Linked DNA regions of Homo sapiens. The protein of the gene in region 3 interacts with the protein of the main gene of each other region in a pairwise test. Each region holds a gene or a part of one and is shown on either strand. Other genes may lie near its edges.

Evidence for each region.
Region 1: the proteins of SOS1 (region 3) and HDLBP interact in a two-hybrid assay, tested with the Homo sapiens proteins (one large-scale study listed by BioGRID and IntAct).
Region 2: the proteins of SOS1 (region 3) and ITSN2 interact in a two-hybrid assay, tested with the Homo sapiens proteins (2 studies listed by BioGRID and IntAct).

Annotation. Positions count from the first base shown.
Region 1 is NC_000002.12:241,309,173-241,312,672, forward strand, and holds part of HDLBP (vigilin), read right to left. Parts: intron 1-3,500. UniProt on the Homo sapiens protein: Appears to play a role in cell sterol metabolism. It may function to protect cells from over-accumulation of cholesterol.
Region 2 is NC_000002.12:24,350,537-24,354,036, reverse strand, and holds part of ITSN2 (intersectin-2), read left to right. Parts: intron 1-3,500.
Region 3 is NC_000002.12:38,988,552-38,992,051, reverse strand, and holds part of SOS1 (son of sevenless homolog 1), read left to right. Parts: intron 1-2,737; coding exon 2,738-2,782; intron 2,783-3,500.

The DNA of each region.
Region 1 (3,500 bases), about 200 Mb from region 3:
TCCCCTCGATACTTTATTTTCCTCCTTTCTTCTTGTCCACATTGGACATACTGCATATCTGCTGGTCTGCTGACTGCCTGACACCGCTTACCAAAACGTGACCTCCGTGAAAGTGCAGGAGAACACACTTGCATTTTCCTTACTGTGTCCCACTTCCTGGAACAGTGTCTCCAGCACGAGCCGTTGTCAGATCAATACATTTACACTACTTCGTGAAGCACCACTAAAATGATAGTAAACGATTTTTTCTTTTTTTAAGATACAAATCACGAAAGCAAAGAATAAGAATAGAGATAAGAACATTAAAATACTGGAGGCTAGAAACTGGAAACAGACCTAAAAGGGCTGAATCCTGTATCGGCAATGGGGAAGGCCAACTGGCAATATGACTGGAAGCCAGGAGACCTGAATTAAAAACAGAGTTGGCTGATAGGTTTAAAAGGCACGAAGATCCCTAAGATGCACCCCACAACTCTGCACAGCCACACAGAGCCAACCTGCACAGTCCCTCTCCTATCCTGGCAAAAAGGTATCGCTTTTCTGTCTGCAAAGGGAAGTAGAATCTTTGGACTGGGGACACCAGTTACAGAGGAGGGAAACAATTCTGAAAAGAGGGAAGTAAGCTCTTTTATGGTTACTGCTGTGCTCCCAGGCCTCTCTCCTCACTTGGCCACTCAGCCAGGCAAAGGGCTACAAGATATTTCTCTGGGGAATCTGAAGAAACCCAAAGAAGCTGACAAGGGTGCTGTAAGGAAATGGCCCAGCCAGGTGCCTCTGCAGTGAAAGCCACAGTCAGCCACAGACACAGGCTCAGAGGCCCTCTGACTCACGAGCAGGCACAAGAACATCACTGCATAGCCCAGAAAAGGCTGACAAAAGCCAAAAACCCACAACAAACCAGAGCAGCCTCAATAGTGACTTAAGGAAAAAGAAAACAGGGAAAAATAAAACCTCATCAATATCTTCCAACAGTTAACAGGAGATACCACATTCATGAAACAAAAAATAGGTTATAAAATAGGAATAGAGGGAACAAGAAAAAGCTCTTAGAAATGAGAAAAACCTTGGTAGAAGGGCTGGAAGACAAACTTGAGAATAACTTCCAGAAAGAAAATGAAAAACCAAAGGGTACAAAACATCAATTAGACAGGAGGAATGTGGTTTTCTTTTATGAGATATATTGTACAGCACGGTGAATATAGTAAATAATAATGTCGATTTCAAAAGTGCTGACAGTAATCTCATATGCTTTCACCACAAAAAACTTAAAGTATTTGAAGTGATGAATTATGTTAACTTGATTTTATTATTTATTGTATCCATAAATCGTAACATCACTTTGTACCCCCTAAATATGTACAAGTATAATTTGTCAATTTACAATTTAAAAGATAAAAACAAAAACAAAAATTTTAGAGGGGGGAAAAAGAAACCTTAAGAAAATTATGAGTGCCAATCCAGAAAGTCCAAGAGTAGAATTCTAGAGAGAGAGAGAGAAAGCAAATAGGAAGAAATCAAAGCAATAAATCAAAAAAATGCCCAGCGTTGAAGAACATGAGTTGCAAATAAACAGGACCAAAGAGTAGGCAAGACGATGGATGAAAACAGTCTCCAAGGGACATCACTGTTCTGGGAGTTCTGAATTTCACAGAAAGAAAAGCCTCTGAGGCCAGATGCAAAGCCTTCACTCCCAGCACTTCGGGAGTCTGAGGCAGGAGAATCACTTGAGGCCAGGAGTTCAAGATCAGCCTGGGCAACATAGAGAGCTCATGTCTACAAAAAGTTTTTAAAATTATCCAGGTGTGGCGGTGCATGCCTGTAGTCCCAGGTACTTGGGAGGCCGAGGCAGGAGCATCACTCAAGCCCAGGAGATTGCAGCTGCAGTGAGCTATGACAGCGCCACCGCACTACAGCCTGAGCAACAGAGCAAGACGCTGTGTCTCAAAAAAAAACAAAAGAAAGAAAGAAGAAAAAAAAGAAACAAAAACCTTCAGGTTTCATGGAGGAAAACATAGTCACACACAAAGGCTCTAAAAATGTTACGTATCAATAAAAGAGAATCAGAACGGCTTAAGACTTCAACAACACTGGAAACTTAGAGACCGCGGAGCAAAATGATGTCCAAATTCCTACTCAGGATAAGAGCAGAACGAGGCACTTTCGTACATACAAATTCTGAAAACTTCATCTGCCATGCACTTCTCAGGCAACTAGTGAAGGATGTGCTCCATCGAAGTGAGACAGTCAAATCAAGAGAATGACATAGGTTCCAGAAAAGTGAGGCTCCAACACAAGAGGGAGTGAGGAGAGTTACAGGAAGATTTCAGGCACAGACAAGCCTGCAGCAGATTGGAGGCGCTGGGAGAGATTTATTCAAGATAAAATGATAGGAATACTAATTTTCTTCAAAAGAAAACGGACAATTTCTTGAAAGATTTAGATAATTGCTTCAGAATTTGGGGTTGAATTGTAGTGACAAAATATAGAAAACTGAGCAAGCAGCAAGCAAACAAAAACAAATAAGACTTGTAATAACCCAGGAAAACAAAAAGTTATCCAGAAAAGTGAAAACAATCCTATTATACCACTTCGTCCAGCTGTAAATGGCAATATGTAGTCATAATATAAACAATCAATACTGAACTAACCAAATTAAGGATATATCACTTTGGGCAGCCATGGATCCGTTTGCACTGAGAAGGCAGAGGGTGAAAGAAAGCTAGGAACTTCCTACCTATTCTCAGTGTCAAGCGAAGAGACATCACATGAAACAGGGGTAGGAGACACAAATACAGACGTCAAGCAAATATGCTCTTTAGAGTTGGAGGCAAAGATCAAGGAAATCTACTAAGGCTGAAGTAGATACTCTGCAGGGGAGGAAACATGATTAGGGGAAGGATGTTGGCACTTCTTTCTTACAAGCCTTTCTAGGATTATCTGACTCTACAAATGACATGAAGCTGTAACCTTGATTTGAAATAAGATTAATATGAATGCTAATAAAAAGTAGTAAGGGAGAGTATGTAGTCAATGTATTCTTACCAAATTAACAACAAGTATCAACAAGATGACTAACACAACCACATGATGTCCAGACACGTCTCAGAACAAATGTCTAGCTCATCTTCAACGGTATTCGAGGAACTTCAGTGTGCTTGGTAAAACAATAGCCTACTAGGGATTTCACTTCTAAAATGTCTCTGACTTTAGAAATACCAAAAAATAACATGTAACCAAGTTTTAAAATATTATACACATGAAAAAAGGTTCTTTTCATTATTTTCTTGGTTTCCAGATGTTGAACGTTGTGGTGCTTTTACAATTGAAGAGAAAAAGCATTCTGACACATTATACTGGTTGGGGTTCTCTGCTTTTCTACTTGGTCAAAAACCTTTACACGCATTTTGGACTTTGTGTCATCATAACTTGGCAATTGGGAAAGCCGCATGATATGCTTCTTTCAGAACTTGGTTACTTCTTACCAAAAGAGGGAAAAGCTT
Region 2 (3,500 bases), about 15 Mb from region 3:
AAAATGTAAGTTTTAAATTGTAAGAACATAAGCAGTTTCCATGTTATTATGTGGTCTAACTGAACTTGATCACAAAATAGCTTTATTGAGATTTAATTCACATATCATATGAATTTGATTTTAAGTGGAAGCATGATACTTGGCTTAGTATATTCCTTTATTTTTGGACATTCATTTTTAGTTTTTTTCAATGATTACTAATGCTGCCATATCTTTGTAATTAAAGCATTTCCCACATTTACTGTTATTTCCTTATGACAGATTCCCAGAAATGAAATTATTGCTTTATAGGATATGAATGTTGGTGGGACTCTTGATATATGTTTTCACAGTGCCTTCTGAAGAGTGATACCAATACGTATTCCCATGGGCTGTACCTGCAAGCACCCTATTTAATTCACCTTTGCTAGCCCTGGGTATTGGCCAGTGTTTTGTTTTGTTTTGTCTTTGAGACAGGGTCTGGCTCTGTTGCCCAGGCTGGAGTGCAGTGGCGGGATCTCAGCTCACTGCCATCTCAGCTCACTGCAACCTCCTTCTCCTGGGCTCAAGCCATCCTCCCACCTCAGCCTCCCGCTGGGACCAACTAATTTTTTTGTAGTTTTTATTGAGGCAGGTTTACACCATGTTTCCCAGGCTGGCCTCAAACTCCTGAGTTCAGACGATTCGCCCCCACTCAGCCTCCCAAAGTGCTGGGATTACAGGCATGAGCCACTGTGGGTAGCCTCGTTTTCTTAATTATTAGTGATGTTAACATTTATTAACTACTTTTATTTCTTCTGTTTCTTCTTTCGTAGATTATTTATTTGAGGTCTTAGTGTTTTCGTTATCTATTTTAATAGCCCTATGTACATTAAAAATATCAACTGCTTATCATGTGTTGTGATTTTTCCCCATTTACCTTTTAAGTTTGTTTTCAAGGAAGTTTTAAATATTTGTTATATAGATGATATAGAATCTGCTTATTCTTTCTTTTGTTTTCTTGTATGGCTTCAAAACTTAAAAGTTGTCTTTGTTTCAAAGAGGTGATGTTTTACTTGAAAGTGAAGCATCTGTCTGAATTTCTTTCCCTCTGTACTTTTTATTCATGTCAAGTAAATAGTTTTGCTGTAATATTTAGTTCTGATATGAGACAGATGACAATAGGCTAAATATTATCAGTCCCCCTGGGACCCCTTATAGGAATGCAGGCTGAGTCACAAGCTATTCTTAGGTATTTTTATCCCCCTTTGTGTGGGTGAATTGTCTTGTTCAGAGTTGTTGACTATTCTTCAAAAATTGGTTTGATTTAAATCTTCAATAGAATTTGAGTACTAACCACTTCAGTATTAGTTTGCTATTCCTGTCCTTTTATGTCTCCTGGCTTATTGGTTGATTTTTTTGAAGGCTAAACTCAATATTTATAAAAATCTGAGCTTATAATTTGTGTTTAAAAATCTAAACTGAGGTTGCTAAATTGCAGAACTAGAATTAAGAACTAAGTTTGTATAGAGAAGTTATCCTCTTTGAGGCTTTTAGGTCTTAATGCTTTGTATATTTGGGACCCTAAGCCTCTAGATAGAAATGATAACTTTTTTCTCAAATATTGATTAAAGTGAGAAAAACATGTCCTTTTATTAATAATTGGCACAACTCTAATTTGTTTCAGTAAAACAAATTAGATTAGTGATTAGTGATTGTGATTACAACTAAAAGTTGATTAGTGATTATAATTAAAATAATGTTGAAATAATTGTTGTAATAATCATAATTTATGGACACCTTCTATGTGCCAGATGTTTTCCAGACATGACATCTAAGCCTTAAAATAACCTGGCATTTAGGTACGATTACAGTAGTACTTTGCTTGTCTGCAAGGAATACATTCCAAAACCCCTAGTGGTTGCTTGAAACCATGGATGGTACAGAAACCTATATACACTATGTTTTTTCCTATATATACATACCTATGATAAAGTTTAATTTATAAATTAGGCACAGTAAGAGATTAATAATAATAAAATTGAACAATTATAACAATATACTGTTAACAATTTCACAGATATAAGACTTGTTCTTACTGTAGATCTTAGCAACCTCAGCATACAATTTTTTCCCTTCTATATTAAGTTGAGAACTTTCACCTTTTCACTTGAAGGAAGTGGCTTCTCCTTGGCATATCCGAATTGCCAGCCTCACTACTCTTGCACTTTGGGGTCATTATTAAGTAAAATAAGGGTTACTTGAACACAAGCACTGTGATACTGTGACAGTCGGTCTGATAACTGAGACAGCTACTAAGTGACTAATGGGCAGGCAGCATAGACACAGTGGATACACCCTGGACAAAGGGATGGTTTTCATCCTGGTTGGGACAGATGCGGGCAATGCAGGATTTTACCATGCTACTCAGGATGGTGCACAATTAAAAATTTATGAATTGTTTATTTCTGGAATTATCCATTTTGTATTTTGAGACCATGGTTGACCACAGGTAACTGAAACTTCAGAAAGTGAAACTGCAGATAAGGGGGTCTACTGTATCCACATTATTTGGTTAGGAAATTGAAGCTATGTCATGTGCAAGTCCACAAAGCTAGGAAGTACTTGCACTGGGATTCAAACTCAAGTTGCTGGGTTTGTCTTCTGTGCAGTTGAAAGAATGCTAACCTGTGCTTATTAAAGAATATTTTAGTGCCTACCATGTGAGTGACTGCTGGGCACTAGGTATATGAAGTTAAAGAGCCATTCAGGAGCTCACAGTCTAATAGAAGCGGGGCAGGCGTGAAAACAAAAGTAACAATACTAGCTGGTATGTAGTTTAATGAGATAATACAAGACAAAATGGGACTGTGGCAAAGGAAGCTATTATTAGTAGAAGTGTCACTCAGAAGGCAGGTAGTTCCACAGGTGCAAAGAGAGGAGGCATGGGAATAAGATCAAGTGGAGGTGGAGGTGGGGAGGTTGAAATACCTGGTAGGGTAGGCGGAAGATAGAGCCTAAAACACCTTGTATGTCACGTGAATAGATTTTTTAAAAACAGCTTTATTGAGATACATATTGTAAAATTCACCCTTTTAAAGTTTACAGTTCAGTGTTTTTTAGTATATTCACAGACTTGTGCAACCAGTATCACTATCTAATTTTAGAACATTTTCGTCGTTCTTAAAAGAACCTCCTATACCCAATGGCAGTCACTTTCCATCTCCCTCAACACCGCTAGCTCTAGGTAGCCACTAGTCTACTTTCTGTGTCTATGAAATTGCCTATCCTAGACATTTCATATAAATGGAATTATACAATATATGGTCTTTTGTGACTCACTTCTTTTACTTACCATAGTGTTTTCAAGATTCATCAATGTTATAGCATAGATCAGTACTTCATTCCTTTTTATGGCCAAATAATATTTTATGGATTATATGGATATACCACATTTTGTTTATTGTTTATTCATTCATCCATCTGTAGTTGATGGACATTTGCTTCCACTCGGTTGCTTCTACTTTTTGGCTATTGTGAAT
Region 3 (3,500 bases):
TGTCATCCCAACATATTCCACTCAAAGCAGTACAAAGTTCCATTGTTTAAGTTTTTCAAAAGGCAGAGTTTGACTAGAATTTTTTTTTATCAGTTATAATACTATACTATTCTTTTTTTACTCTTACGGTTTTTTCCCAAAATAATCTACTTTTAAAAACCTATAATTAATTATTTCAGCCAGTATCTGCTGCATATCTTATTCCTTGCTAAACACTTACACGTCTTCACTGGGAAAGCTTGCAGTCTTACTGAGAGATTAAAAATAATCATAGTGCAAAGAGATTCACAGTTAAACGCTAAAAATAGTGGTAAAGACATAAATACTGGAGAAGCTTATAGAAAGATGACCTCAGAATGAGCAAGAGTGGTCATGGAAAGCGTTGTGGCAAAGACAGGGCAGAGAAGTGGCCACGTACTTAGTGCTGCCACACATACATTCAAAGCCCTGCTCCACACCTTGCCCTGGCCAGGTCCACCTTTGAGGTGATGACGACAGTTGCTGAGAAAAGAGAAAAGACCACTGGCTCACTACTTGTTTCTGCTGCTATAATAGAGAGGAGAAAATGATGAAATGCTCTTTTTACCTTCCTGTTTGAAGATTGCCTGGTCATAAAAGGGAGTCAGAGGTCTGACTTCTCCATTTCCATCCCTTAGGGGACTCTTTAACAACAAAAAGAATGTATTACAAGTATGTCAAGCTGATAACGCAAGGCTTTTCCTCCTGGAAGATTGCTGTAGGTGATGAGTTTCTAATCCCAAATATATTTGCATTTACCAGGCTTTTGTGAGTTTAAGAAGTTATCTATCATATCTTTTTTTTTTTTTCTATAGAAAAATGCTTGTTTCTATCAAGAATGACTCCTTTATAAACTGGGGAGTATCTTTAAGAGTGGTTTCAACCCTGACTGTATAGTATCATCTGTTGAGGAGCTTAAAAAAAATATGTAGGCCCAGCCCACACTAGACTGGCATTGGTACCTGGTATCAGTATTTTTTAAAAACTTCCCATAGGATTCTAATGTACAGCCAAGATTGAGGACCATTTGTCTGTCATCTGGGATTATGCTTAATAAATTAATACTGTTTTTTAAATTAATTAGATTTCACTTCTAAGTCATTATCAGTAAATTTACTCAGTATCTAACTGACAAGAATTTCTAGCATATATTTCTTGATTAGTGCATGTAAAATTCTAAAAGAATTTCTATAGTATTTTCCAGGCAATAAGACAACTAGTGCCCCAAATTTACCAAATGCATGAGTCTAAGCCTGTGCTATATATAAATATACTCAAAGCCAAGTTTACATCTGTGTACACAAGTGTGCATGCATATGTACAATTAAAGACTATAGTTGTAACAGTCATGAGCTTGTGTTTTGATTTTACTCCTATTCCTGTATTGTATTAAGTGTACTATCATGTTCTTGAGGCATATCTCCAGGAGATATGTTTATTTCTTTTCCAGGAAAAGTGGGACATATATAAGTAGGGTAAACGCTAGAGCTAGATACTCCTTTAATCTCTATTACGTCAGATCTCTGGCTCCCTTTTACAACCAGGCAATCTTCAATTATAGGTGGCTAATAGGGAAGAAAATCATCGGCAGAGCAACAGCTTCATGTAATTTCAGAGTAGAAAAATGAATTTTAATCTTCTGAAAGGTAATATTAGAATTAGCTGGATTGCTACACTTAGGAATCATAGGTTCCAAATAAATATCAGTACATACGGAAATCAGATAATGGGACAGATTATTTGAAATTAGGGCTGCCTAGAAATCTGGAATGTGAGATCACCCTCCTTCTGACCAAATATGCTTGAATAAACTTAATATTCCAAATTATGTGAGGGATTGCCTATTGTGCAAAAAAAAAAAAACGAAATCTGAATTTAAAAAAAATTACCACAGTCTAGTATTATTTTAGTCTCTTGGATGTTATAACGTTATCTGTTCCATCTGTTGTTAATATGAGACACTGTACAAACAAACAACTATATTGATTTAGAATCAGTATAGATCACCTAGCTTTTTGTCTCAATTTTCCTACTTTAATGCTCTTGGGGCTTTCGCTTTTGATTTTCAGTTTTTTCCTTAAAATAATTAATATTGTTGAAATTAGACTTTCTAAATTTAAATTTATCAGAATTTCCTATGTAAAATGAGTCTAGGCACCAAATGTTTAATGACTTTAAAAAAAATGTTTATGACTATAAAAGGAAAAACCCTGTATCAATTTCAAGCTTGTTTTATATCCAAAGTGCTAGTTATTTTGTGATGAGAATATATGCCCCAAGAACATTTTTGAAAGACATATAATTAGTAACTTTTTTATTTTTCAACTTACATAAAATAAACTTATTACTTGTTTCACAAGTTTGAGTTTTCAAAATAATATTTACTAAATGGCATATTTATATACATCCAGCTGAACTTTTTGCTTGAATTGGGTTTCTACATTTTAAAAAGTCTTTCAGTAATATACGATTTTTTTATGAATGTTTTTCATTTAATAATTATGAAATCAAGTAAAGCTAAAAGGAATCTTAAATTCCCAATATGATATCATTTTTTTCTTCTCAAAAGTAAGTAGTAATGAGGTTTTACTATAAACTGTTACAGCATTCTTTAAAACGACAATGACAATAACATTTTCATCATAATACAAATTTTTGCAGATGAGTTGAATATATCAATGAAAGAAAAAAATCTACTTTTTCTTGTTTCCTTTCACAGGCAATGATACCGTCTTTATCCAAGTTACTCTGCCCCATGGCCCAAGTTAGTATATTTGGTTTAAGACTCATAATTCTTGCTTTGGCTTTAAAAATCAAACCAAGTGTAACCTTTCCTGCTAAAACTCTTCTTGGGTCTGGCAGCATTGGTACCTTGCTTGCAACATCCTAGAAGTGAGGCCTTCACTTGTGCTATCTTTAGATCATAAGTGATTTGCTTAAATTTATATATTTCTCATGCTTTTTATAAAACCTTGTTTCTCTCTTAAAAGAACATATTAAATAAGTGGCTTCCACATTTAACCATTTCTTTTTTCCAACTATAGAGTTCTAAGTATATTTTAATGCTCAACTTTGAAAAAAAAAAAAAGGCAAGAGCATGCATGCGCATATGGGAATGCTGGCAGCTACATGCAGTTTCTAAATCACAAAATATACTTAGCCTGATGGCAGGATAGATTATAGACAACTGCTTTTGACTTTAGAAGAACTTTCTTATAATTGTAATTATTCAAAGTATAGCCTAAATACTGATAAACAAAATAAAGTTCCATTTTAATTGTAAGGTAAACTAACAAGTCACTAAATTCCATTATTTTAATTATTTAAGCTAATATTTTTTTGCTGTCCTTTCATACAATTTCAAAATATGTACAATGGAAAATACTAGTTACAAGCTGAATTAACTATATTCTTAAGAAAAAAGGTAGGTGATCAAAATGTTGATCATTTAAATAATATCAGTACACAAAGTACTCTTTTTA